7 linked regions of the Homo sapiens genome follow. The protein of the gene in region 3 purifies or fractionates together with the protein of the main gene of each other region. This does not show direct contact. Each region holds a gene or a part of one and is shown on either strand. Other genes may lie near its edges. The genes, in order: SLC25A46, TMEM59, SLC7A5, NDRG1, TMEM70, RNF122 and OCRL.

Region 1 (2,651 bases), on a different chromosome or scaffold from region 3:
AAGCTGCCATTTTTAAGACTGCCATGCCACTGAACCACAGAGAAGACAGGAGCCAAGGTAAGTCAAAGCCACAAAGCTTTCCTAACAATAAGTTGCCTTTTTCTTGATTTAACATTCACATAGTTGCTGTAAACTTTTGACTGTTTTCCAGAGTCTGACAAAGTTGGTTCTGACAGTTTCTGGTTGTTTTCTTCTCTTTCCATGGAGGGATGGGAGTCTGGAGCTGCCTATTTGTCATTTTTCTGTTGTTACTCTCCTAGTTGTGAAATGCAGGACAAATCACCTCCTCTCTGTATCTATTTTATTCTTAATCAAACAGCACAACTCCAAAAATGTCATAGGGATGTGGTGAGGAGGCTATAGAGATTTTAAAAAATAGTGTGCAAAAAAGTTTAACTTCACATATTTTGTTGATCTTCCTTTCTACCTAAAAAAATATACTTCATCTTTAACCACCAGCCTGAATAGTTCTCTCACATCAGTAGGAGAAAAACAGTGGCTTTATTTCGACATTTTATTGAACTTTTCATATTACACAATTTACCCAAAACATTTAAAGTAACAGTAAGACAAACTTAAAAAAAAAAAAGTCATACAGACAAAACATCTCTAGGTGAGGCAATATGTAAATTTCATTGTCAAATCATGATTTTGTTACTCTGCTATACAACTTGGTACCATATCAATGATACTAAATGACTCAAGAGTAAGACATTATGCATTCCGTTTATATGAGAAAAAGAGATTATTTACAACTACTTGAAAGAGAAACAGAAATGCCAACAACAGTATCATTCAAATTCTAGTGCAATGTCAATTGTTACCAAGAGATCTTATTTGCTTATATAAATTTTGCAAATAATTCAAACCTGGCTATCTTATTAGAAGCTGACAAAGTATGCTTTTCTGTTGCAAAAGATCAGTGGACAAAAATCCTCCACAACCTCAGCTGATAAAACAAATTTAAGCAGCATTTTTTTTTTCCATTTCCTGAACAGATGTACTAATACTTAGGTAGAAACACTAAAGCATTTGTACTCAATCAATAAAGTGAATGCTTTGTGCAGTTTTAACAAAGCTGCTGCTAAAAAGACAGTTGTGAGTGGTCAGGTATATCTGCAATAGTAAGCAAGTTCTTACCTTTCCAGTTCTGTATGCTTCTGAAAACACCAGCTAAGGTATTAAATACCCATTTTCAAGTGACCTTGTTTTTACTATTTCATATTTATGACATCTAGTGCTGAGATTCTGGGGGCTTTAATAGATAACCTTATTAACCCAGATAATTTTTTTTGGAGCCCATAAAATAAAATTGAGAATGGCATTTCGGGAAGGTCTACATATATGTATTTAGTAAGTTAATTCGTAAGTTCACTTTACATAGTAAATTAATATTTACCAGTTTTTAATTGCTTTCAGTGTACTTGACTCAAATTAAGAAACCCTACAATGTAAGGCAAGTGTATCACAAGCTCCATGGCCAAAATTTGGCTTATATAAGAGGACCAGTGGGCCTGTGGAACATTTAATAGAATCTTTTCCATAATGCTATTAGTTCTACTGAATTAAAAAATATTATTTTGAGCTGTTATTATCTTAAGAAGTATAGCCCATGGATATTTGATTTGGCACCCATGTTAAAGAAAAATAACAATTTTTAAAAGGGAACGAGCGTATCTTACAGTTATCTCACTCATTCTTTTCAAAATTCAGTGCAACATATTTGGCTAGCTTAAATTTAAGTGCGTGACCGTTCAAGATTTTGTTTCAACTAATTTGGAGTGGTTGTAAAAAATTATTCATATTTTACTTTCTACATTTCAATTTTAATGTTAATTTGTATTCTCTTTCTCCAAAAAGGAAAACAAGATCAACCTTATTTGTGTATGGTTCAGCCTATCAGTCTTATAATTATTCTACAATAAAATGAATTTATGTAACTAACTATTTTCATGCTAACTTCCAAAAAATATCCTGAAATATTTAATTTTTAGCTAAACAAAGGATCCTACAGATTTTCACTAGTAAATACTTGATTCTATTCAGATTCTTTTCTAGAAATTTTTCAAACTTGAAATTTTCTGGTTTACTCTTATCTGAAACTATCCTAATTGAAAACAATTTAAATGCTATTGGTTGGACAAAGTAAACCTTAATCTAAAATAGTCACCATAAAATATAAAATGTGATCAGTGGTGTTTAATTTTATTTTCCCCCTTTTGGTGGAATTTAAAAATGGAAAATGTAGGTGTTTCAGTAACTACACACACACACACACGAGAGATTTGCTACTTATTACTGTTTTTACACTTTTTGGATATCACTTTTTTGTTCCAACACTACTATTTGCAAAAAGTAACCATTTCTGTGACATTTAGCAAGTAAAATGAATTTCTATTCGTATGCATTCTTGGTTGGACAATATCAGTGCAAAGTCACTGTGCTTCAGAGCGCTAAATGGTTCATGATACAACTGTGATTATTCACGTGAAGACATGAAACTTTAAAATGTCTAATGATAGAGCAGACACATATCATTTTACTACACAAAGTGCTTAACCCACCAAATTACATTTAGGAATAGACAAAATGTTTTTATTAAACTGATTAGTAATTTTTTTGCTTATTATATGTTGAAATGTACAAATGTA
Region 2 (4,260 bases), on a different chromosome or scaffold from region 3:
ACAAAGGAGGAGTGGTCAGGTACACTTTGAGGAGGAGGCATAACAAGAAATAATTCATAGGTCTTTCCACAACAGAACCTCTAGCACCACCTTGCTATCAGTCCTTTGCACATTTCCTCTAGCCCCAGATCCCCTCTCACCTTCAGAGATTCAATCGTGGCCTGCTTGTAAACCTTTCCTCCAGAATCTTTCTTCTGAGGGCTATTCTGGATTCTAGGCGTTCGAATGACGAATTTATCCATTGTTAGGGGACTCCGACTACCTTGACGTGCTTGCAGCGTGTTCTGGTCAAGAAAGAGGGCAGATTCTAAAACCCCACTAAAGACTGCCATGATATTTTTTCCCCAAAGTAACACAATTGAGTTCTCTGGAAGAATTCATGAATTATGGGGCCTCGAGTGGAATTGACAGGAAGTAAGATTTTCTCTTTAAAAGAAAGATCTTCCGAAGAATTGAAACTGTAATCAATCATCAGTCTACGTCCTGAGTTAGGAGGTTCCTAGCTTCCAGAAGTGCACGCTCTAGCGAGGATTCCAACATTGGGGGAATTGGCCCAATATTGGAATCCCCGCTAGAGCGTGCACCTAAGCCCTCTTCCAAATAAGATTGGGCTGTGAAAGGGTTAGGATTACATTAGGCTCAGTGACGCCCTCTTAACAACCACCTCACCACAGCCATAATCCCAAGGGTTGCCCTGGTAATCAGCAACCGACAACCACCTCCAGAACTCAGCAGAGGGTCTCACAATACGCAGCATCCCCTAGAACAAACTGCTCGGTGGTCAGAGGACCCTACCCACGGCTGTAATCTCTGGATCCCCGAACAAGGAGAAACCCCATCCTCCTCGTTCCCAGCACTCAGGAGCCCGGGTAGGGGCACCCAACAACGGTCTGACGTGAGACCCACCAGGAAAAGCAGCCCTGGTAGCTGCTGTTGGCGCCCTCCAGACTGCAACCTCGTAGGCTCCCAAGCCCAGTCGTCTGTGTTGAAACTAAACAGACGCTTCCTCCCAGGGCGGTAGTTCCTCTGAAGAAACTCCGCCGGCCCTCGCGCCTCTGGGCCACAGCGAACCACATTCCCCAGAATGCACTGCGAAGAAATGCGGGCGGAAGGCGCGCTGAGGGCGGCTGTAGTTTTCCGAGACCAACTTTCCCGACAGCACCGTGCGCCTCCCGCCTACGGAGAACTACATGCCCCAGCCTGCCCCGCGAAGGGAAGAAGTCAGGAGGCCCCGCTTCGCGCTAACGCTTGCGATGGTTGAATTCCCCTCCTCACGCCAGCCTAGGAGAAGAAGTTCGTAGTCCCAGAGGTGAGGCAGGAGGCGGCAGTTTCTGGCGGGTGAGGGCGGAGCTGAAGTGACAGCGGAGGCGGAAGCAACGGTCGGTGGGGCGGAGAAGGGGGCTGGCCCCAGGAGGAGGAGGAAACCCTTCCGAGAAAACAGCAACAAGCTGAGCTGCTGTGACAGAGGGGAACAAGATGGCGGCGCCGAAGGGGAGCCTCTGGGTGAGGACCCAACTGGGGCTCCCGCCGCTGCTGCTGCTGACCATGGCCTTGGCCGGAGGTTCGGGGACCGCTTCGGCTGAAGCATTTGACTCGGTCTTGGGTGATACGGCGTCTTGCCACCGGGCCTGTCAGTTGACCTACCCCTTGCACACCTACCCTAAGGTAGGGCCCGTCCGGAGCGGGCTGCGACCCTTCCCTTGCAGCCCATTTCTCGGCTCCCCACACGTATGTCGGCTCTGGCAACCTGGCTGTTAAATCGGCCCTTCAATCGCTGTCTCCCATCTGTGTAGCTCCTGTTTTCCTCCCTAATCCTGCCTGCACCCCATTTCTGCTGTCATTACCGGAAGTTTGTCCTGCACTACCCTGTGATAGGCTGGGGGACACAAAGATGAGAAAGACGCGATCCCTTTCCTCTGGGAGCTTGCCGGGCTGCAGGGGAGTCGAGCACTCGGAGGAGGATAGGGGAGGATATGGATGATTAATGCGGGGTCCTCACCTAAGGGAGCGTAAGGGGGGATTGTAGAAAGGGAGGCGCAGATACGCGAGTCCACAAATGATTGATTGATAACCCTTGTTTACTAAGCGCCTCTCGGGGCCAGGAGCGCAGTCTTCGGGGAGTCAGACAAGTAGACGATTCCACTGTGGTATAAAAAGCGTCACGAAGGCAGCTCAGGGAGTAGCGAGACGCTCAGGAATGCTGTCTGCCTATGTTGAGTTACTGTGTCCAAGACGCTGCCAAGAGGGACTGGGTTAGAGAAGAGGCAATTAGGTGTCTGCCTACCAGAAACTGACCACTCAGTGCAGAAAACGGGGAATTCGTGGAGTGGGTGAAGAAATGAGACTGTGGACAGGAGGGGGTTCGCAGCTTACAGAGAGGAATGGCCCTCCTCTCTATGCTTCCCCCCTTTCTTTTAATTACATACCTAACCCTCTTCACGTTGGTTTTTCAGCCTAAGAACTCTGTTTACTCAACATTCTAAATTGCTTGATGATTCCCACCACACCTTTCCCATGTATGATTTGAGTATATGCCCTCCCCCACGTTGTTTTATGAGAGCTTTTGTTGATGTTGCTGGTGGTTTCCTCTTCGTTTTTCCTTCATCTCCTCTATGCTATTTGCTTAACCATTGTGGCTGGACCTCCTTGCTCTCTAAAACTGGAGTGGCTACGGAGACAGTTCCAGTGAAGCTTAGGATGTTCCATATTGGCGAGTATTTTCAGGTCTTTGAAATGAAAAGTTCTAAGTGCCGGCACTTCTCAGATTTTGTTACGGCTGGATTTTAAACTGCATGGAGATTATCAATTTTCAAAAAAAAGTGTGGGAGAAGGGACTGTACTAAATTTTTCCAGAGATTTATGTAACAATCGAGAAAGAAGTGAGAAGTTTTAACTTCAGACTTAAATCAATGAATACTGCTTCTAACCACGTTATTTTTCTCCACCTCTTGTAAACTTCTCATCATTAAGAGGATTGTATGAAGAAGCTCATTAATATTGATTTGGCCTGGAATTGGGTTGAGACTTACTTTCTATTGTTCTAGGGTTTGTTTCCTTTTTTGGGATTTTCTCGGCAATTTTGTGGTATAAACCAGAATGTTGGGAAAATAATCAAATAATTTGAAAGGATACCTTCCTGGAAGTTGTAGGTACTTTAATAATGTCCACTATTTTCTAACAATTGGTGTTATATCTATAAACTATTTTTACTTATTTATTAAAGCTTTTCTCACAAAGAACTCCAAATCATCTGGCTCCCTATAGGTCCTGGACTTGAAATTTATATAGACTCCACTGTTAGCCAGAGTGATGGGAGATTTATCATACCATTATCCCTAATTCTCACAACAACCCTGTAAAGTAGGGTTTTAAAATTAAGGAAATTGAGGCTCTGAAAGGTTAAGTGACTTGCCTAAGGTCACATACCCAAGAAATAGTGGAGCAGGAATTCAGCTTAAAACTGGCTACACTATGCTGCCTCCTATTAATAAACTTGCATTAAACATATTCGGCCGGGTGCGATGGCTCACGCTTGTAATCCCAGCACTTTGGGAGGCCGAGGTGGGTGGATCACCTCAGCTCAGGAGATTGAGACCAGCCTGGACAACATGGCAAGACCCCGTCTCTGGAAAAAAGAAAAACAAAAAAACTAGCCAGGCATGGAGACGAGCACCTGTAGTCCCAGCTACTCGGTGGGAGGCTTGCTTGAGCCTGGGAGGCGCAGGTCGCAGTGAGCCGAAATGTCGCCAGTGCACGCCAGTCTGAGAATGAGACCGTGTCTCAAAAAAATAAAAATAAAAAAATGCCGGGCGCGGTGGCTCACTCCTGTAATCCCAGCACTTTGGGAAGCTGAGGCGGGTGGATCACCTCAGGTCAGGAGTTCAAGACCAGCCTGGCCAACATGGTGAAACCCTGTCTCTACTAAAAATACAAAAAAATTTAGCCAGTCGTGGTGGCGGGCGCCTGTAATCCCAGCTACTCAGGAGGCTGAGGCAGGAGAAGCGCCTGAACCCGGGAGACAGAGGTTGCAGTGAGCCCGCGCCACCGCACTCCAGCCTGGGCGACAAGAGGGAAACTCTGCATCAAAAAAAAAAAAAAGAAACATATTTAATTATGTCACTGATTTCTATTGGCTCTCCTCTGTGCTTTGTGCTCCAGGAAAAAGCACTGTGTATTGTAAGAAATTAGATGAATTTTCAAACTCACATAGCGTTTGAAAAACGAGATAGAAATCTCGTTTTAGGCTGGGCGCGGTGGCTC
Region 3 (3,500 bases):
GCGTGACGGCACGCCTGGGACTGTCTCAGCAGCCCCCCATGCTTCACCCAACTGGGACAGGGAAACAGGAGGGGGCTACTTCTGCTTTCAAGGCATGGAGGAGCTGTCTGCAGGCCACTTCCCGAACACCTATGCGCTTGGAGAAGTGACTGAGACTGAGCCAGGGTATCTTCTCCACGATGCAGTGAGCCCATCGGGCCCTTCTTCTGAGAGCACCTCCCTGGAGGTGGAAGCCCCTGAGGCCCACAGCATCTTCTGAACCTGTGAGTTCCCACTTACTGAGAACTCGCCTGGATCAGTGCCGGGCCACAGTGGACCGGGACTTTGAGTGGATGCTACCCTACTCGCTATGCAGAGCCAGCTGGGGCCCAGGGAGGTCAGATAAACTGCCCAAACCAAATCCAGGCCCAGCCAGAATCTCAGCTCCAGCCTTTGCGCCTTCTGATAAAACCCAGCATCGCTTGAATTTCCAGTACACGCTGCCAAGTCTTCGTTAAGCAATAAATAACCACACAACCCTACTGTCATGCCAAGTTCCATATGGCCATCCAGAAAGAGACACATGGAGCTGGTTCCTCTCACCTTTATGACCAGTGAAAAGCGCACCAACACGAAGACACGCGTGAAAGGACCTCATCTCCTACCCAGACTGACAAGCAAGGGATTTTTTTCACTCACCGTCAGTGGGATGGTTCTAAGCACCGAGGCCAACCCATTTCACACGATTATTTCACAAAAAGAAACCTTCTGTGGGACGTGCCTGGGCGACTGAAAAGACAGCCAGCAAAACTGAGAACCTTGTTCTCAAATCTATACCCTCTCCCAAGGCAGCCTCAGAGGCCCGAGGGCTGAGGATCCAGACCCGAAAGCCACTGTACCTTCTGTAGGATCAGGCTCAAGGAATAAGGGGGTAAAAGGTGCCCTTTCCCTTCCTAAGCAGAAAATTCCAGAACCCAACCTTATGTGTGATCATTTAAAAATATATATATATATATATATATCAGCCGAGTAGGCTGACTCACGCCTGTAATCCCAGCACTTTGGGAGGCCGAGGTGGGCGGATCACCTGAGGTCAGGAGTTCGAGACCAGCCTGGCCAACGTGGAGAAACCCTGTCTCTACTAAAAAATACAAAATCAGCCAGGCATGGTGGTGCATGCCTGTAATCCCAGCTACTCGGGAGGCTGAGGCAGGACAGTCGCTTGAACCCAGGAGGCAGAGGTTGCAGTGAGCCGAGATCGTGCCATTGCACTCCAGCCTGGACAAAAAGAGCGAAACTCCACCTCAAAATAAATAAATAAATAAATAATAAATAAGTAAAATAAATCACTTTCTATGGCTTTTCACTGCTCCAGGAGCAATGTCCACAGATCAAACGCCCGGCCTCTCCTTCACACCCTGGAGCGCCCATCCTGCCCACTGGTCCGGGCTCCAGGCTGCCCCCTGCACCTGTCAGAAGCCCCCCTATAAGGGCAGGGTCTCCCTTCCCGGGACATCCACTGCCCTTCTCCGAGCTGAAGTCAGAATGACCTGAGAATCAGCTTGGAGTTCTACCAGCCTCAGCAAAGCCCACCTCTGCGACAGCACTCCTTGCAGACCCCTGACCCGGTGACAGATGAATAAAGTACAGACACACAGATATTCTGCTCTGCCAGTCCAGCTGAGGGTCCCAGCCGCTTATAGGCTCCCTGCTGAGTCCTGTAAACAGTTGCTACTTGGCCCTGATCAGCTAGTCAGACGTGCATTTATTCAGTATGATTAACTAACAAAAGCTTGAGTCAACACCATTAGAATGTAACAGACATTGTGGACTTCCCAAGTAAAAAGCACTTAAACACCCACGGTCTTAAGATTATGCGAGTAAACAAGCTAGCTAGGTAAACTACGCTGCCTTTCTTTTATCACTATTTTTATTTGTTTAATTAAAGGTAAAGGGATCAGGCCGCCTTCAGCCAGAGCTAATTACCGAAGTTATGCCAACTTCTCGGCCTTCCAAGATTTGTGTCTATTTCTATAACTATCTCTAATATCTTTCCCACCAGAATGATTGAACCCCAACACACCTCCCTCTCTCAGCAGGGTCTGCCTGTTCAGAGAACACAGCTTCTCTTTCTTGCCTTACACACAGGGGCAAGAATAGATTCACTCTTGCAGAGAGTACATCCCTTTCTGTTACTGAAAATCACTTTCCAAAAAAAAAAGCAACACATACACACATACTCACCACACACACAGGTGGGTCAGAGAAAAAAAACAAGTACAAATGGCTTAGGGACATGAGAAGTGTGGCCCTAACTTTCGCTGAAAGGGACCCTATTAACATTAACCCTCACCTCTGGGTCAGAGAGGGTTGGCACTCTAGGGCCTGCCTTGAAGCTTTACCTACTGGGACCAAAAGGACTGCTTGGAAAGCTATTTTAGGCCAGGTGTGGTGGCTCAAGCCTGTAATCCCAGCACTTTGGGAGGCAGAGGCGGGTGGATCACCTGAGGTCAGGAGTTCAAGACAAGCCTGGCCAACATGGTGAAGCCCCGTCTCTGCTAAAAATACAAAAAATTAGCTGGGCATGGTGGGCACCTGTAGTCCCAGCTACTCGGGAGGCTGAGGCAGGAGAGTCGCTTGAACCCGGGATGCGGAGGTTGTAGTGAGCCAAGATCGTGCCATTGTACTCCAGCCTGGGTAAGAGCAAAACTCCATCTCAAAGATAAAATAAAATAAAAATAAATTTAAAAAATACTTTTTAAAGCCCTATTACCACAAAATAAATCCAGGAACGCGTGACTTGGTACAGCCTCTTTGGAAGGCACATTAGCTATTACATTAGAATCCACACCCCGCCGGGTGCGATGGCTCATGCCTGTAATCCCAGCAAATTGGGAGGCTGAGGCACATGCCTGTAATCTAAGCTCCGGAGGTTGAGGCAGGAGAATCGTTTAAACCCAGGAAGCAGAGGTTGCAGTGAGCAACGAGCCTGGGCAACAGACACAGACTCTGTCTCAAAACAAAATCAAAAACAAAAAGCAAAAAACCACATACCCTTTTCCCATTTGCACAAAGCTGGGAAACCCCAAATGCCCTCCACAGGGTTCTATGGGGGGGCGGGGGTGCGGTGAGCACACTTGTTCCTGCCGACACAGGGAAGTCTTCTTAGCAGCTAAAGAGGGCAGCCTCTGCGTACTGCCTGGGAACATGGCAAAACCATTTTAGGCTTTAAAAAAAAGGTGGAGAACAAGTTGTACATTATGATCTTTTAAATAAATAGGCCAGCGATATATTTGTAACAGAAGCAGCTCCGGAAGCATACACTGTCAGCCGCAGAAACTCTGGGGGTCGGGGGTGGTAAAGGAGGAGAAATGTGTCACCCAGGCAGGAGCTCAGTGGCACCATGCTTGGTTCAAGCAGTTCTCCTGCCTCAGCCTCCGAGTAGCTGGGACTACAGGTGTGCGCCATGACGCCCAGCTGATTTTTGCTTTTTTTTTGAGATGGAGTTTCGCCTTGTTGCC
Region 4 (3,500 bases), on a different chromosome or scaffold from region 3:
ATCCGGTTAATTTTGTATTTTCAGTAGAGACGGGGTTTCACCATGTTGGCCAGGCTCGTCTCGAACTCCTGACCTCAGGTGATCCACTCGCCTAAGCCTCCCAAAGTGCTGGGATTATAGGTGTGAGCCACCCTGCTCATCCCACTTTCGCTGTTCTAAGCCATCCTGTTTGTGGTAATTTGTTACAGAAGCCACAGGAAACCAACACAACAGGCAAACCTAGCAGTTGTACTCGCCAACTCCAGAGTGGAGCCTCTGTTCCCCTGGTACACTCGCCAACTCCAGAGTGGGGTCTCTGTTCCCCTGGTACACTCGCCAACTCCGGAGTGGGGCCTCTGTTTCCCTCGTACACTCGCCAACTCCGGAGTGGGGCCTCTGTTTCCCTCGTACACTCGCCAACTCCAGAGTGGGGCCTCTGTTCCCCTGGTACACTTGCCAACTCCAGAGTGGGGCCTCTATTCCCCTCGTACACTCGCCAGCTCCAGAGTGGGGCCTCTGTTTCCCTCGTACACTCACCAGCTCCAGAGTGGAGGCTCTATTCCCCTCGTACACTCGCCAACTCCAGAGTGGGGACTCTATTCCCCTCGTACACTCGCCAACTCCAGAGTGGGGCCTCTATTGCCCTCGTACACTCGTCAACTCCAGAGTGGGGCCTCTATTCCCCTGGTACACTCGTCAACTCCAGAGTGGGGCGTCTGTTCCCCTGGTGTACTCGCCAGCTCCAGAGTGGAGGCTGTGTCCCCAGGACTCATGGGAGTGTCAGATGGTCACACATGTTAGCTCAGAAGCAGACAGTGGTATGTAAGCAAAGCAGGTCACTGCAATTTCAGGCAACCAAGGGGTTTTCCAGACCCTGGGCTTGCAACCAAGCCCATGGCATACCCTTCCCGAGGGTAGCTGGCCCCAGCTAGAGACACAAAACCAGTGTCTGGGGCCAGGCAGGCTGGGCTGATAAGATGACTGCTCACTTCTAGCATGCTGTGAGGGGCTTGGCTCAATCCCCTTTAGTGGGGTAACTCTGCAGAAGAGCAGCTCATCTCAGAGCCAGGCAGCAGCACAGGCAGCCGCCATCCTGCTGTGGTGACCAGAATGAAGCCAGATTCATAGGTTCTAATACCGGCCCCACCTCTCCCTGGTTGAGACCCTATGCAAGTCACTCAACCTCTCTGGTCTGTTTCCTCTTCCATAAACTGGGAATGAGAACAGAATTTATCACACAGGTCACAGAGCACCTGGGTGGAATCCTATTCCTATAGTTAACACTTGTGAAGCTCTTAGGACTGAGCCCAGCCCAGCACACAGCTAACTCCACGGACATGTTTGCTACTGACCAGATTTATAACAGCCCAGAACTGGGAACAACTCAAAGGTCTTATCAACAGGTGAATGGAAAAACAAACTGTTGCACATACATAAAATGGAATACTTCTCAGCACTAAAAAGGAATAAACTTTTTTTTAAGAGACAGGGTCTCTCTGTCACCTAGGCGGAATACAGTGGGCTATCCCAGCTCACTGCTCACTGTAGCCTCAAACTCCTGGGCTCAAGCAATCCTCCTGCCTCAGCCTCCCAAGTAGCTAGGACTATAGGCATGCAGAACCACCATGCCTGGCCAATTTTTAATTTTTCTGTAGAGACAAGGTGTCACTATGTTGCCCAGGCTGGTCTTGAACTCCTGGGCTCAAGCAATCCTCCTGCCATGGCCTCCCAAAGTGCTGGGATTATAGGAATGAGCACTGCACCCCGACTAGGAATAAACTATTGATCCACTCATTAACATGGACAAATCTCAAAATGGTTATGCTGAGGGAAAGAAGCCAGACCAAAAAAAAAAAAAAAAGAGTACCTACTATATAATGCCATTTATATAAAATTCTAGGAATTGCAAAGCAATCTATAGAGGCCAATGCTGATCAGAAGTTGCCTGAGGAGGAGGGAGAGGAGGACTATCAAGGGGCACAAGGAAACTCTTGGAGTGATGGAGACGTTATTCTCCTGATTACAGGGATGGTTTTACAAATGTATATGCATGTCAATTGTACACTTTAAATATGTGCAGTTAATTGTACTTCAATCAGCTGTTTTTAAAAGACACATAAAAAAGAGAGAGAATGAATGACTTGTTGCTTATGAATGAATAATGTCACATTATCTCATGAGCACCAGCTCGGTGGCCCCCAGTTGATTGTGTCTTGTTCTCTCCACCCCCACATGGGGCCCTGTGCTGAGCACCACACAATGCCTTGCTCAGCAGGAACAACAGATTTGCCAGACCACGCAACTCACCTTCCCAAAAAGGTGGGACACCACCATGTCCGGCAGAGCTTGGGTCCATCCTGAGATCTGGAAAGGAGTAAAGTGGGTGGATGAGAAACCAGGAGCTAACAGTAGTTAACAAGGTCAGCAAAACCCCACTTCCCTGGGTGCAGGGTGGCATTGCTGGACTCCCCCCTACATGCAGGCCTCAAGGACATCCCCCTTGATAGAAACTCAGTTCCTGTCTCCAGTTCCCTCCTGGACCTGATCCCCCAAATGCAGGGCCTGGGACTATATCCAGTTCCTTATTTTCAGAGGCCCATGCACAAGATGCACAGCAAATAAGTGCTGAATAAAGACCCAGCTACTGCTAGCTTACCCTGCTCCAAACATTCACCAAGTCCTCAGCAAAGAGGGCCATCCATTCACCTCTTCTAAAAACACACTGAGCTCCCCAGTCTATACCCCAAGATATGCTTGGCTCCCAACTATCCCTCCTCTCTCATCTCCAAGCCAGTTTCCCCTTTCTAAGTATACTGATATTACCAAAGACACTGACAATCTTCTTTTCCTACCTCTCCCCAGTGACTAGGTTTGCAGCAGGAGCTCTATAAGTCCTAGTATACAGCAGAAGCTCCATAAATGTGTGCTGACCTAAGCATTAGGCAAAAATGAGTAGGAGAGAAGCTCTAGACCTAAGGGTCTTTGGCTGGCCCTTGCCTGCCACAGCCTAGCTGTGTGGCACTGGGCAGTCTGCATACCTCTGGGTCTCAGACTTCTAATCTGGAACTGGGAGTGCCAGGAACTTCAAGGCCACAAGGTCAAGGGAAGGACTGCAAGAAGTAACTGCACACATCACAGTATCTAATACCAATGCCTGGTAATCGAAAGGCTGGAGTTGAAAAAGAAGGGAATAGTACAGCTATTAAAGCTGTACTGAAGGGAATAGTACAGCTATTAAAGACAATCCTCAGGCTTCACATTAGCCAGTGGTCGACATCCCCAGACCTTCGAGTCTCACTCAGGACAGCTATCATGAAGCCCAGCGGGTTGACTGGAATGTCACTTCCTTTGCTGGAAAATCAAATAAAAAACAGGGAGTGTGTTCCACTCCAGAACGTCATACAGGCTGGACGGAAGGGCTCCTGCATTCTGGAGGAATGTTCAAAGAACAAATGCAAAATCACAGTGGCTGGTACAGGGCAGGGGATGGGGCAAGAGGCAGGGCCCCTTCAAACCATCGG
Region 5 (4,089 bases), on a different chromosome or scaffold from region 3:
CAAAAACCCACCTTGAGCAGAAGATGGCACAGAGGAATGGCGGTGGGAATTCTCAGTCTGGTGAGCTGGACAATCCAAGCAGAGGGCAGGCTCTACGTCTCAGAAAGACAGCTTTTCTGTCTTATCTCCTATGAATAAGTTTCGAGCAGCCTGGGAGTTGAATGATCTCTTTGAACAGATGTTCCTGCTGCTTCCCCATCAACCTCCCTCATACACATGTACGCCATAAAGTTTAAATTTACTATCATGGTGGCCATAGACAATGTTAGGTAGCTCCATAAAGACAGACGGGGTGTTTCATTCTTAACTGTGATCTTAGTAACTAGCACAGTACTGGGCACTTAGTAAATATCTACTGATCTAAATAGTGTGGTTTGAGGCCTCTTGTTCCTGGCTAAAAATCCTTGGCAAGAGTCAATCTCCACTTTACAATAGAGGTAAAAATCTTACAATGGATATTCTTGACAAAGCTAGCATAGAGACAGCAATTTTACACAAGGTATTTTTCACCTGTTTAATAACAGTGGTTTTCCTACACCCATAGGGTGCCACCAAGGGAGGAGTGCACAGTTGCAGAAACAAATTAAGATACTGAAGACAACACTACTTACCATTTCCCGTATAGCTAACCACCAGTTCAACTGTACATGTATGTTCTTATGGGCAATCATGCCAGGGGTTAGGCAAAAACCTGTGTTCTGAACCAAAGAAGACTTAAAACTGCTCCCATAATTTGTGAATTTCTTGAAATTTTGCGGTTTTTTGAAAATTTTTTAACAACTGGTAATCAATTTATGAAAACAGTTGACTTAAGCATTTGCAATGGTGACTTCCATCTCAACTCCTGGCTCAATACTGATGGAAGTAATCTGCTTAACTATCTGAGGACTGCGCAAGTCAATGAGTCGCTTGTGGATTCTCATCTGGAAACGATCCCATGCCTTAGAACCTTCACCGTAAGTTTTTCTTGTAGTGATTCTCAAAGTCTTGGTAGGCATTCAAACTGGTCCTTTCACTGATTCTTTTCCTTTGCTCCTCAGATCAAGTCAGCACACACCTTATCCAGGGATTTTACGTTGCAACTCGTTAGAGTGATATGAATTCGGTGAATTGCCACCTCTGACTCCACGGGTGTTTTTCTGGTATGTTTAAAAGCCATGGCTGCTGCAAGGCTTCCTAGCCAGCTTCCTGACAGACTTGGTCCTCAGGCAACAGCAAAGAGCAGTGAGTCAGGAGCAGGAGCAGGTGGACCACAGCTCCGCACCACCTATGACTGTGTCTTCCTCAAAGAGAAAATGTCTTTTAATGTCGGAAAATATTTATACACTTAGAAAAATCCATACACAAAGAATAAAGCAACTCTCCCATTTGCTACTGACATCAGATCCCCAGTTTAGAGTCAACCACAGTAACACAGAACTCTTATACTAGCATGAACATATTTATTCACATACCTTTCTAAAACACGAATGGTAGATACTACATTTTGGTTTTCAAACATAGCTTGTTTTATTATAAACAAACATCATTCTCTGGAAATTAAAAGCTTTGATAATTTCAAATTATTTTTAACAATCAGTCACTAACGGAATGCAAAAGGCAATTTTATTATTATACATTAAAACGTAAATCACATTTGAGCACGAACACTAACAAATAGGCTCATTTGTCATCTTTATGCCGTTTCTCTTCACTGGTTTCTTCCATATACAAAATAAATTCTTCTTTGTCATAACCCATTAGATGGATATAGTCTTCACGGTTTGGAAAGAGCACTGGATTAACTAACAGTGATTTTGTTTTAGCATAAAATGTGGTAAATACATGTTTAGCATCTGGAATCTTCACATCATTCTGGTGAAACACTGTACTCGTTTCTGCAAGCATAGCATTGTAGGTAATGGCTTTATAAGTGTCTGTTGTGGCCTCATGGTACAATCGAATGACATAGCCTTTTGTAATAAAGTGAAGCAGCACTGGGGTGATCACCGTAAAGCTTCCCATGATGCCATAGAATATGATTTGAATAGGCAGAGGCACACTTTCAGAAATAGCATTATTTTGTGTAAAAATGTATGGCAGAAATGTAAGGCCAATCAGACTCGTAGAATAAGAGAAACATTTCACACCTAAATGGGAAAAAAAGAGAGAGGATCAATACTTTTAAATTTTATAAAAGAATCAATCTATCCCACTAATTCTTCCATTTTTCTTCTTACTGTATCAGCTCAAGACAACAAAATCAAACCATAAATACAGTGCTTATTATATTCTAAGCTCTGTTTTAAGGACTTTACATATTTTGACTTCAATGTCCCTGCTACTGACCATTAGAATGCACTGCCTCTCCAGGCAGGAAATCTGCTTTAGGGTTTAAGTGGCCCTACCTCAGTTCCACAATAAAGTAGTTAATATTACTTAAAGATCCTTACTAATATTGTACTACAAAAGTTGATTCAGATAGCAGATTATCAAACAAAACTCTCTATTAACAAGCACTCCAGTATATCTAACATAAAATATTCAAACATGGGAAATTCTATCAGGCTAAGTGCCCAGGATTAAAACAGCAAATCACCAGAGAAATAAAACCAGTGGTTAAAAAACATATCGGACGGCCAGGCGCATTGGCTCATGCCTGTAATCCCAGCACTTTGGGAGGCTGAGGCAGGTGGGTCATTTGAGGTTAGGAGTTCGAGACCAGCCTGGCCAACATGGTGAAACTCCCATCTCTACTAACAATACAAAAATTAGCTGGGCATGGTGGCAAGTGCTTGTAATCCCAGCTATTCAGGAGGCTGAGGCAGGAAAATCCTTGAACCCAGGAGGTAGAGGCTGCAGTGAGCCAAGACTGCACACTGCACTCCAGCTTGGGAGACAAAGCGAGACTCCATCTCAAAAAAAAAAAACAGAAACATATGGGAAAGGTATTCAATTTCTTTAGTAAGGAAAGACATTCAAGTTAAAACAATGAGATAAGCAGCCTGGCCAGCATGGCGAAATCCTGTCTCTACTAAAAATACAAAAATTAGCCAGGCTTGGTGGCATGCACCTATAATCCCAGCTACTGGGGGTGCTGAGGCAGGAGAATTGCTTGAACCTGGGAGGTGGAGGTTGCAGTGAGCCCAGATTGTGCCACTGCACTCCAGCCTGGGCAACAAGAGCAAAACTCCGTCTCAATAAATAAATAATAAAAAATACAAAAAAAACACTGAGATACCATTTTTACCTATTACCTTAGAAAGATTAAAAATAAATGACTTCTAGCAGAGTGCAGTGGCTCATGCCTGTAATCTCAGCACTTTGGAAGGTGTAGGCAGAAGGACTGCTTGAGACCAGTTTGAGACCAGCCTAGGCACCATAGGAAGACCTGTCTCTACAAAAAAAATTTTTTTTAATTAGCCAAGGCTGGTCTGATGGTAATGAGTTATCAGAACTTAACACTGGCATCACTAAAGTTGGTATACAATGTCCCCACTGCTAAATTTGACTAGCTTAAAAAAAAAAAAATCAGCCAGGTGTAGTGGCACATGTCTGTAGTCCTAGCTATTTGGGAGGCTGAGGTGGGAGGATCACTCGAGCCCACAAGTTTGAAGTTGCAGTGAACTATGATCACACCACTGCACTCCAGCCTAGATGACAGAGACCCTGTCTCTAAAAAATAAAAATTATTTTTAAAAAATGGCTTCTAAACTGTATACTTCAAAATGATTAAAGTGAAAAATTTTATGTTTATCTAACCACAATAAAAAATGACTTAAAATGTAAATTTACCTTACCTTTAATTTATAATTTTAATACGATCCTAATAAAAAATACCATCTGTTTGGAAAATAAAGTTGAGATCCTAAACAAGTTGATTATAAAGTTTATTTGGAAAAACAAAAGCAGCAAAAAATAAAAAAATAAAGCAATGAGGGGAAGTTACCCCTTCGAAATATTAAAACATAATAGAGGCCGGGCGTGGTGGCTCACGCCTGTAATCCCAATACTTTGGGAGGCCGAGGTGGGTGGGTTACTTGAAGTGAGGAGTTCAAGACCAGCCTGACCAACATGGTGAAACCCTGTCTCTACTAAAAATACAAAAAT
Region 6 (3,500 bases), on a different chromosome or scaffold from region 3:
CACCATGTTGGTCAGGCTGGTCTCGAACTCCTGACCTCAGGTGAGCCACCCACCTCGGCCTCCCAAAGTTCTGGGATTACAGGCATGAGCCACCGCACCTGGCCCAGTTACATTCTTTAAATCCAGACTTCCCACATCCCTACATATTAACTCCCTTGATCTCAGTTGAATTATTCTCTGAGAGAAAGGCTTGGGAAACATCAGCACTTGCAGAGGTGTAATAGACAAAATGAGGCCACGTCTAGGCAGTCTCATGTTTAGTGGAACTGTGATCCGCTCTGCTCCCAGACAACCACAAACATGCTCTGAGTAGGAGTGTCTGTGGTCATGAACAGGAGCCTTGGGAAATGGGTTAGGTGACCTTAGAGGCATAGGTAGGAAAGGAATAGGATATGACTAATTCCTCAAGTCAGAGTTGAGGGGACTCAAGGAACTGGTGTATGGGTGGGAGTGGGGTGGGAGAGAAATGGCAGAGCCACAGGAATGAACACACTAGTCAGATCTAGTCTGTTAAGATGGGGTATATACAAAAGTAAAAGGACCTCATTTCCTATGATAACAACCAGGATGTAGGGGCTGAACATAGGGAAAGTTAGCTGAATTCTGTCTATGGCATGAAAGGGTACGACCATCCTCCTGGTAAAAATTATGTATTGTGGGACTCCTGGGGCTGTGGGGCACTACTTATCTAAACCCTTCTGTGATCCCTTCATGTCTTCTGCCTGAGGCTGTTCCAGGTGTAATCAATTCCACATATTAATTACTTGCTGAGATGTGTCTCCATTATTTGGCCAAAGGAGATATGAAGGCATGGACTAAGCAGTTTTCTGAAAAGCGTCCAGGCAGAGAACTGGAGCAAGGTGCTGTCTGCCTCACCTGCTGGGGCCCTCCTGCACACTTTCCTGGCACACTTACCCCATATAATTGTAACTTCTTGGCATCACCTTTAAGCACCACCTGAAAAGAAAGAGGAGGCATGATGTCCAAAGAAGAACCAACCACTGGGGCCAGCCAGGTAGTATCAACCAATGAAGGGAGTCCCCTGGACTGCCTGGGGCAAGCCGGACTTCAGACACTGAAGGGGTTTAGCCTCAGGGAGACCCAGAGGTGAGGCCAGGGGGATTCCTGCCCAGGAGAACCTGAGCCTGCCCTCCTTGCCTCTTCCTATCAGGTCAGGCAGAGAAGGAAGCTTCTGGGAAACACGCAGCACTTTACCTCCTTATATCCGTATCGCTCACTCTGTGCCTGGTTCCGCAGTTTGCTGGGAGAAAGAGAAAAAAATTAGAGAAAGCAGGTTAAATGGAACAATTCAAAGCAGGAGAGGCTGGCTGGCTGCTTGGGCATTCTTCCGAGGGCAGGGAGGGGTGCTTGTCCCATACACACCACAGGGCATACTTTGGACCTATGCAAGCCAACAAGGGTTGATAAAGGACTAAGACTGTTACTCGGGTTTGACAGCCTCAAAATTCACCACCAGGTCTCATACACAGATTGGGGGACCCTCCAGCACAGCATCCCCAAATAGCTCATTCACTCACCCTGCCTTTTTCTGGTCGGCAAATTCCTTCAGTCACCAAACTACATAGAAATCAACACTGTGTTTACTGAGTGTGCGGAAGTTAGACAGATATGCATAAAAGGGTTATTTCTGTTAAGCCAGGATAGCAGAATAAGTCTCTGTTGACCCTGGGGAATTTTCCACCCGGAGAACATAAGTATTCTGGAACCAAAGCACACTCTTCCCTTCACTGTGCCGGACAACACAGACGATGCCTCCTTTGTTTTCTTCTTTTCATTTTAAGCTGGTGGCCTGCAAACGGGCTGACTCTCAATGGCCAAAACATGGCATGCCGTTACTAATGGCAATAGCATAATATAATGGTTATGAAGTACTTGCTATATGTCGCTGGGACACTTAACATATTCATATATGTTCTTAATGATTCCAAACTCCAAGAGTGAGATACCTTCGCTTTTACAGATAAGAAAAATAAAGCCTGGCTGGGTGCGGTGGCTCATGCCTGTAATCCCAGCACTTTGGGAGGCCGAGGCAGGTGGATCACTTGAGTTCAAGACCAGCCTGGCCAACATGGTGAAACTCCGTCACATTAAAAATACAAAATGTGCCGGTGTGGTGGTGCATGCCTGTAATCCTAGCTACTTGGGAGACTGAGGCAGGAGAATCGATTGAACCCAGGAGACGGAGGTTGCAGTGAGCCGAGATTGCGCCATTGCACTCCAGCCTGGGCAACAAGAGCGAAACTCTGTCTCATAAAAATAAAAAAAGAAAAAGAAAAAGAAAAATGAAGCCCAAAGAAGTGAATTTATTTGCCTAAACATCACAGAGCTAATTGGTAGCAGAGTCTAGATTTGAATCAAAGTTGGTGTGATGACAGAGTCCAAGCTCTTTACCATATAATGTGGTCTGTTCCCCTAATCAGGTGGAATACATCATAGTCCTGAGAATATGATCTGGTCTTGGGACACACCCTACCTTTTATTAAGTTTACAACTCTGAATGGCTTGCTGTGCAAATGGCCGAGACCATAATTATACACTGGATTTTTTGCCGTATTATTTTCAAGGAAGGGATGGAGGATCTTACATGCTGAACTCTGCAGGTAGCTTTAGAATGCCTCCTGTATGTGGGTTGGGTGGGATGGCTCATGCCTGTAATCCCAGCATTTTGGGAGGCCGAGGTGGGCAGATTGCTTGAGCTCAGGAGTTTGAGACCAGCCTGGGCAACATGGCAGAACCCCATCTCTACAAAATGTACAAAAATTCACAGGACAATTCACACGGCATGGTGGCATGCACCTGTAATCCCAGCTACTCAGAAGGCTGAGGCATAAGCATCGCTTGAACCCAGGAGACGAAGGTTGCAGTTAGCAGAGATCGCACCACTGCACTCCAGCCTGGGTGACAGAGCAAGACCCTGTCTCAAAAAAAAAAAAAAAAAAAAGAATGCCTCCTCTATGTGTGCTATGGGGGAACCTTATGGAGCTTTTCCTGGTGATCACTTCTAAACACAGTCCTGGGTTATTTGGAAGGAAACATAGAAACCCAGCAAGCCAGGAGAAGCAGGAAACTTTAGTCTGAGGACCAAATCCAGCTCACTACTTGTTTTTGCAGGGTCTAGAGGCTAAGAGTGGTTTTTATTCTTAAATGGTTGAAAACAGAAATAAAGAATAATGCCAACTCAGGTGGATTGCTTGAGGCCAGGAGTTTGAGACCAGCCTGGGTGACACAGTGAGAACTTGTCTCTTCAAAAATAAATAAACAAAAGAAAATTAGCCAGGTATGATGGTGCATGTCTGTAGTCCTGGCTACTTGGGGGGTCTGAGGCAGAAGGGTCCCTTGAGCCCAAGAGTTCAGAGGTTACAATGAGCTAGGATTGCCCCCACTGCACTCCAGGCTGAACAACTGAGTGAGACTCTGGCAAAAAAATTTTTTTTAAATAAATAATTAAAATAAATAAACAAATGAGTGGATAGATGGAT
Region 7 (3,500 bases), on a different chromosome or scaffold from region 3:
TGGGGGTTTGATATTTTATTGATTCAAGTGCCCTGCAGGTGAGTTGTTACAGAATTGGTCAAAGACTCTTGGCAGCTTTGGCCCAGCTTCAGGGTCAGGGGAATATAGCCTGCAGAGTGACAGTTGACACTGGAGCAGTCCTATAAACCAGGTGCCCATGTTTCCCATCCTTCTCCCTGCCCTGTCAACAGTACGTGTGGTGGCAGGAGTGACTGATCACCTGAAGGAGAATAGTACCAGTGCTGTGGCTTCTATGTCCCATGCTTTTAAGTCATTGTTATCTACCCCTTGCTTCCTTTTAGTAAGAGCTGGATATGGAAAGAGGTCAAAAGTTCCTGAAAGGAAATGAGAAACAAGTGGATAGTCAGTGGTTATCTTATAATAAAAGATATTACAAAGAAAATAAATATAGAACCACAAAAATCAAATATAGGTGCGAAGAAGAGTTTGATCAAGTACTCATCCAGCTTCTTAAGCTTTGGTCGCAAAGGATACGGATTGTCTCAGGAATGCTGGTATCCAGACAATCAATGATCTGCTGGAGCTCTTCCTGCATTCCAGGGGTCTGGAACAGGTCCTCCTACCAAAGAAGTCAGAATGAAGGGACAGGCAAGATAATCACTCCTGAGGTTATGATGATTACCCAAGGATCAGAAGAGCAGCAGGAAGCAAAAGGGAAGGGTGGTATGTGTGTTAATAATTACAAATGGAGGTGTGAAAATAACACATTTTTCCTTTAGCATTTCTCTAATCCATGTGAAATGTTATTTCAAATAGGAAAATGATCTTTTCAAAGGTTTTAGCCTGTACCTAATAAGGCAGGGGACTAGATGGCTAGAGCAGGAAACCAGGTGTTCTAATTCTAGCCTCCTTTAAAATTTTTTTTTATAGAGATGGGGTTTCACCGTGTTGCCCAGGCTGGTCTCAAACTCCTGAGCTCAAGCAATGCGCCCGTCTCTGCCTCCCAAAATGCTGGGATTACAGGCATGAGCCACCATGCCTGGCCTACTTGTAGCCTCTTGACAAGCAGCAGAAGGCAGAGTCCAAACAGAATAACCACATTCAAATGCTAGTACTACTGAACGCTGGGGAAGGAGGAAATCGCATGCTCATACTAAACCTTGCTTTCAAGTTACATTATTCGTCAGTAGGTAAGAGAACATTACCTTTCAATTTAGTCCCAAGAAATATCTCTTTTGGGGGCGAATGAGGTGGGGTGGCATTTTAGTTAGGATTTAAAAGAAAAATTAGGACCAAGTTAAAAAATGGGTTTAAAATCTGCTTTGGATTTTACAATCTCTAATGCCTACATGACTCATAGCCAAAGTAGGCATTATAGACTCAGGTGTGCAGCTGTCCAGGGAAAATGAGAGGGTAGCCAGGAGACAGGTGCTCTTAATTTGGTCCTGGCTCTGCCACAACTACACTTAGGCCTTTGTCTTAGTAAATAACTTACCTTTACATGCTTCAGCTGTGACATCTGTGACTAGGACACTTCCACCCACCCAGTCGATCTGACAGTGCCACTGTGTGCAGGTAGCTTGGGAAAGTTAAAAGCGCTATGCTGACGTGAGGTGTTGTGATTTCCTATAGTAGTTACACACCTTCCAAAGTTGTAGGGAAGGTCTACTCTCACTTACCTGGTGACAGGCGTATTTGAATAGGTGATCTACTAGAAGCCAGATCTCCTTGGGAACCTGAAGGGGTCTCTCACTGGCACCTTCATCCAAAGGAACCATTTGCAGAAGGGATTTCTCCTAATAGATGGAAAAGTATGAGAATCAAAGGGGTCTCAGAATAAAGACTTTGGTGTATAACTTAAAGTCCTTCAAATTCTGGTCATGCAGGTAAAATGTGATCTTCATCTCTTAAGATTTTCCATTTCTTCTCACTGGGGACACTCCTGGTCAGAAGGCACTTGATAGCGAGTCCCATAGTTAAAGGATGTCCTTTCCTAAATGCTTCACTTAATTGTTCTGCATTTCATTTGCGTTTATGATGTTTATTACGTGGATGCCTTGTGTTTAAATCCTTTCAAAGGTGACACTGAGAACCAGTGCTCCGGTGATACAGTCACAGTGGAGTCCATACAGCACTGGTGACTTGGGGACTATTAAATTACAATTGTCAATACAGTAGTTTGAGAGATCAAGGTCTACACTTAGGTTTTTGTTTATTTCTAACTTACTCTTCCTTCAGGTCTTACCACAGATACTGTTGTTTGTTTTCAATGTTGATTTAAATTAGCTTCTTTAGTTTTCAGGAATTAAAGACAACTCTCCACAACATTAGACCCACATATGTAAATACTTCAGGCTTGATGGAAGTTCTAATCTTAAGGTGCTAAAACTCGTAAGCCTTAAGGTCCAAAAATAGTAAACTGAATACAGCTAACCAAGAGGCAGAAATACCACGAAAAGTTTAAGGTCTGAGTCCAGAAGTTACAGTTTCTAGGAATAGCTCAGCCAAGATTTCTAGGGGCTTTTACTCCTTTCATCTATCTTTCTACTATCTGTTATATTCTTCTGAAAGAATTTTGTAAGAGAAAAACCCAGAAGTGACATAAATCAAATCAATCACTATATGTGAATTGGAAATGGCTAGGAAATAAACTCAGTTATCTTAGGTTCATGTAATCAAATATAAATTACATGAAAAAATGTTTGAAATAGTAAAGGCACCTGAAGGCACCCTTCATAAAAATCCCAGTGGAGAGAACCATGACCAATTTTTTTGCATCCTCCTCCCTCCCCCGCCTCTAGCTTGAGGTCATATATATTCTGTATGTTTAACTAAGAAATTCTTGCCTAACATTGTGCAACTTGTGAATTCCATCCACAACCCCCAGTCACGTAGCTTTAAAAGAAAAAAAAAGGAGCATGTCACTACTTTGACAGAGACCACATACACTACAGCCGAGCTGAGGTCTCTTCTTAACATTGTGTTCTTTAACAAGCACTGATGACCTTTAAAAGCTGCTGTGCCTTTCCAAGGGAATAAGAAAGAGAAGGGAGTGTGACAGTTGGTTACCATTTAAAATCTTTCTTTTTTTTCCCCACATTCAGTTTGCTTCCTTTCTTTCCCTGGGATTCTATCACTTGATATTCATGTTCCTAATAGTTGCCAGAATGTCTATCAATGGCTCATCCATTTACTTCTTTCCAGTTACAAATATCAAATCCAAGCATCCACATGGTATTTGAGACAAAACACTGTCCATCATGCACTCTGCTAACTCTCTGGACCAAATGCAGCACGTGTACTGATTCTTTAGCAGATGCCTCCAAACTTGCCATATAGAAATTATGCAGCACTGATTCATGTACTTTTTAAAAAGTCTGACATCCAACTGGAGCTTTTCCTGTACTAAGGCATTAAGGCAACACAAGGCACTGCCTAAGATAAAAAGACAGAACATGGACTGCTCTTAACAGGGAAGAGCTAGGAAGCACAGCTGTCTCAAACCTTGGTGGTTTAAAAAGGTTAATAAAGTGTCAGTA

Evidence for each region.
Region 1: the proteins of SLC7A5 (region 3) and SLC25A46 purify together in Homo sapiens (affinity purification with mass spectrometry; one large-scale study listed by BioGRID and IntAct). This does not show direct contact.
Region 2: the proteins of SLC7A5 (region 3) and TMEM59 purify together in Homo sapiens (affinity purification with mass spectrometry; one large-scale study listed by BioGRID and IntAct). This does not show direct contact.
Region 4: the proteins of SLC7A5 (region 3) and NDRG1 purify together in Homo sapiens (affinity purification with mass spectrometry; one large-scale study listed by BioGRID and IntAct). This does not show direct contact.
Region 5: the proteins of SLC7A5 (region 3) and TMEM70 purify together in Homo sapiens (affinity purification with mass spectrometry; one large-scale study listed by BioGRID and IntAct). This does not show direct contact.
Region 6: the proteins of SLC7A5 (region 3) and RNF122 purify together in Homo sapiens (affinity purification with mass spectrometry; one large-scale study listed by BioGRID and IntAct). This does not show direct contact.
Region 7: the proteins of SLC7A5 (region 3) and OCRL purify together in Homo sapiens (co-immunoprecipitation; one large-scale study listed by IntAct). This does not show direct contact.

What each region holds. Positions count from the first base shown.
Region 1 is NC_000005.10:110,763,007-110,765,657, reverse strand, and holds the end of SLC25A46 (mitochondrial outer membrane protein SLC25A46), read right to left. Parts: 3' UTR 501-2,651; downstream 1-500. UniProt on the Homo sapiens protein: Transmembrane protein of the mitochondrial outer membrane that controls mitochondrial organization.
Region 2 is NC_000001.11:54,050,405-54,054,664, reverse strand, and holds the start of TMEM59 (transmembrane protein 59 isoform 2 precursor), read left to right. Parts: upstream 1-1,460; 5' UTR 1,461-1,476; coding exon 1,477-1,665; intron 1,666-4,260. Other genes in the region: TCEANC2 (transcription elongation factor A N-terminal and central domain-containing protein 2), read right to left, coding at 141-242.
Region 3 is NC_000016.10:87,863,008-87,866,507, forward strand, and holds part of SLC7A5 (large neutral amino acids transporter small subunit 1), read right to left. Parts: intron 1-3,500. UniProt on the Homo sapiens protein: The heterodimer with SLC3A2 functions as a sodium-independent, high-affinity transporter that mediates uptake of large neutral amino acids such as phenylalanine, tyrosine, leucine, histidine, methionine, tryptophan, valine, isoleucine and alanine.
Region 4 is NC_000008.11:133,252,253-133,255,752, forward strand, and holds part of NDRG1 (protein NDRG1), read right to left. Parts: intron 2,344-3,500; coding exon 2,287-2,343; intron 1-2,286. UniProt on the Homo sapiens protein: Stress-responsive protein involved in hormone responses, cell growth, and differentiation. Acts as a tumor suppressor in many cell types. Necessary but not sufficient for p53/TP53-mediated caspase activation and apoptosis.
Region 5 is NC_000008.11:73,979,195-73,983,283, reverse strand, and holds the end of TMEM70 (transmembrane protein 70, mitochondrial), read right to left. Parts: intron 2,130-4,089; coding exon 1,663-2,129; 3' UTR 501-1,662; downstream 1-500. UniProt on the Homo sapiens protein: Scaffold protein that participates in the c-ring assembly of mitochondrial ATP synthase (F(1)F(0) ATP synthase or complex V) by facilitating the membrane insertion and oligomer formation of the subunit c/ATP5MC1 through its interaction.
Region 6 is NC_000008.11:33,550,129-33,553,628, forward strand, and holds part of RNF122 (RING finger protein 122), read right to left. Parts: intron 1,262-3,500; coding exon 1,216-1,261; intron 958-1,215; coding exon 916-957; intron 1-915. UniProt on the Homo sapiens protein: May induce necrosis and apoptosis. May play a role in cell viability.
Region 7 is NC_000023.11:129,585,259-129,588,758, reverse strand, and holds part of OCRL (inositol polyphosphate 5-phosphatase OCRL), read right to left. Parts: intron 1,758-3,500; coding exon 1,641-1,757; intron 581-1,640; coding exon 496-580; intron 1-495. UniProt on the Homo sapiens protein: Catalyzes the hydrolysis of the 5-position phosphate of phosphatidylinositol 4,5-bisphosphate (PtdIns(4,5)P2) and phosphatidylinositol-3,4,5-bisphosphate (PtdIns(3,4,5)P3), with the greatest catalytic activity towards PtdIns(4,5)P2.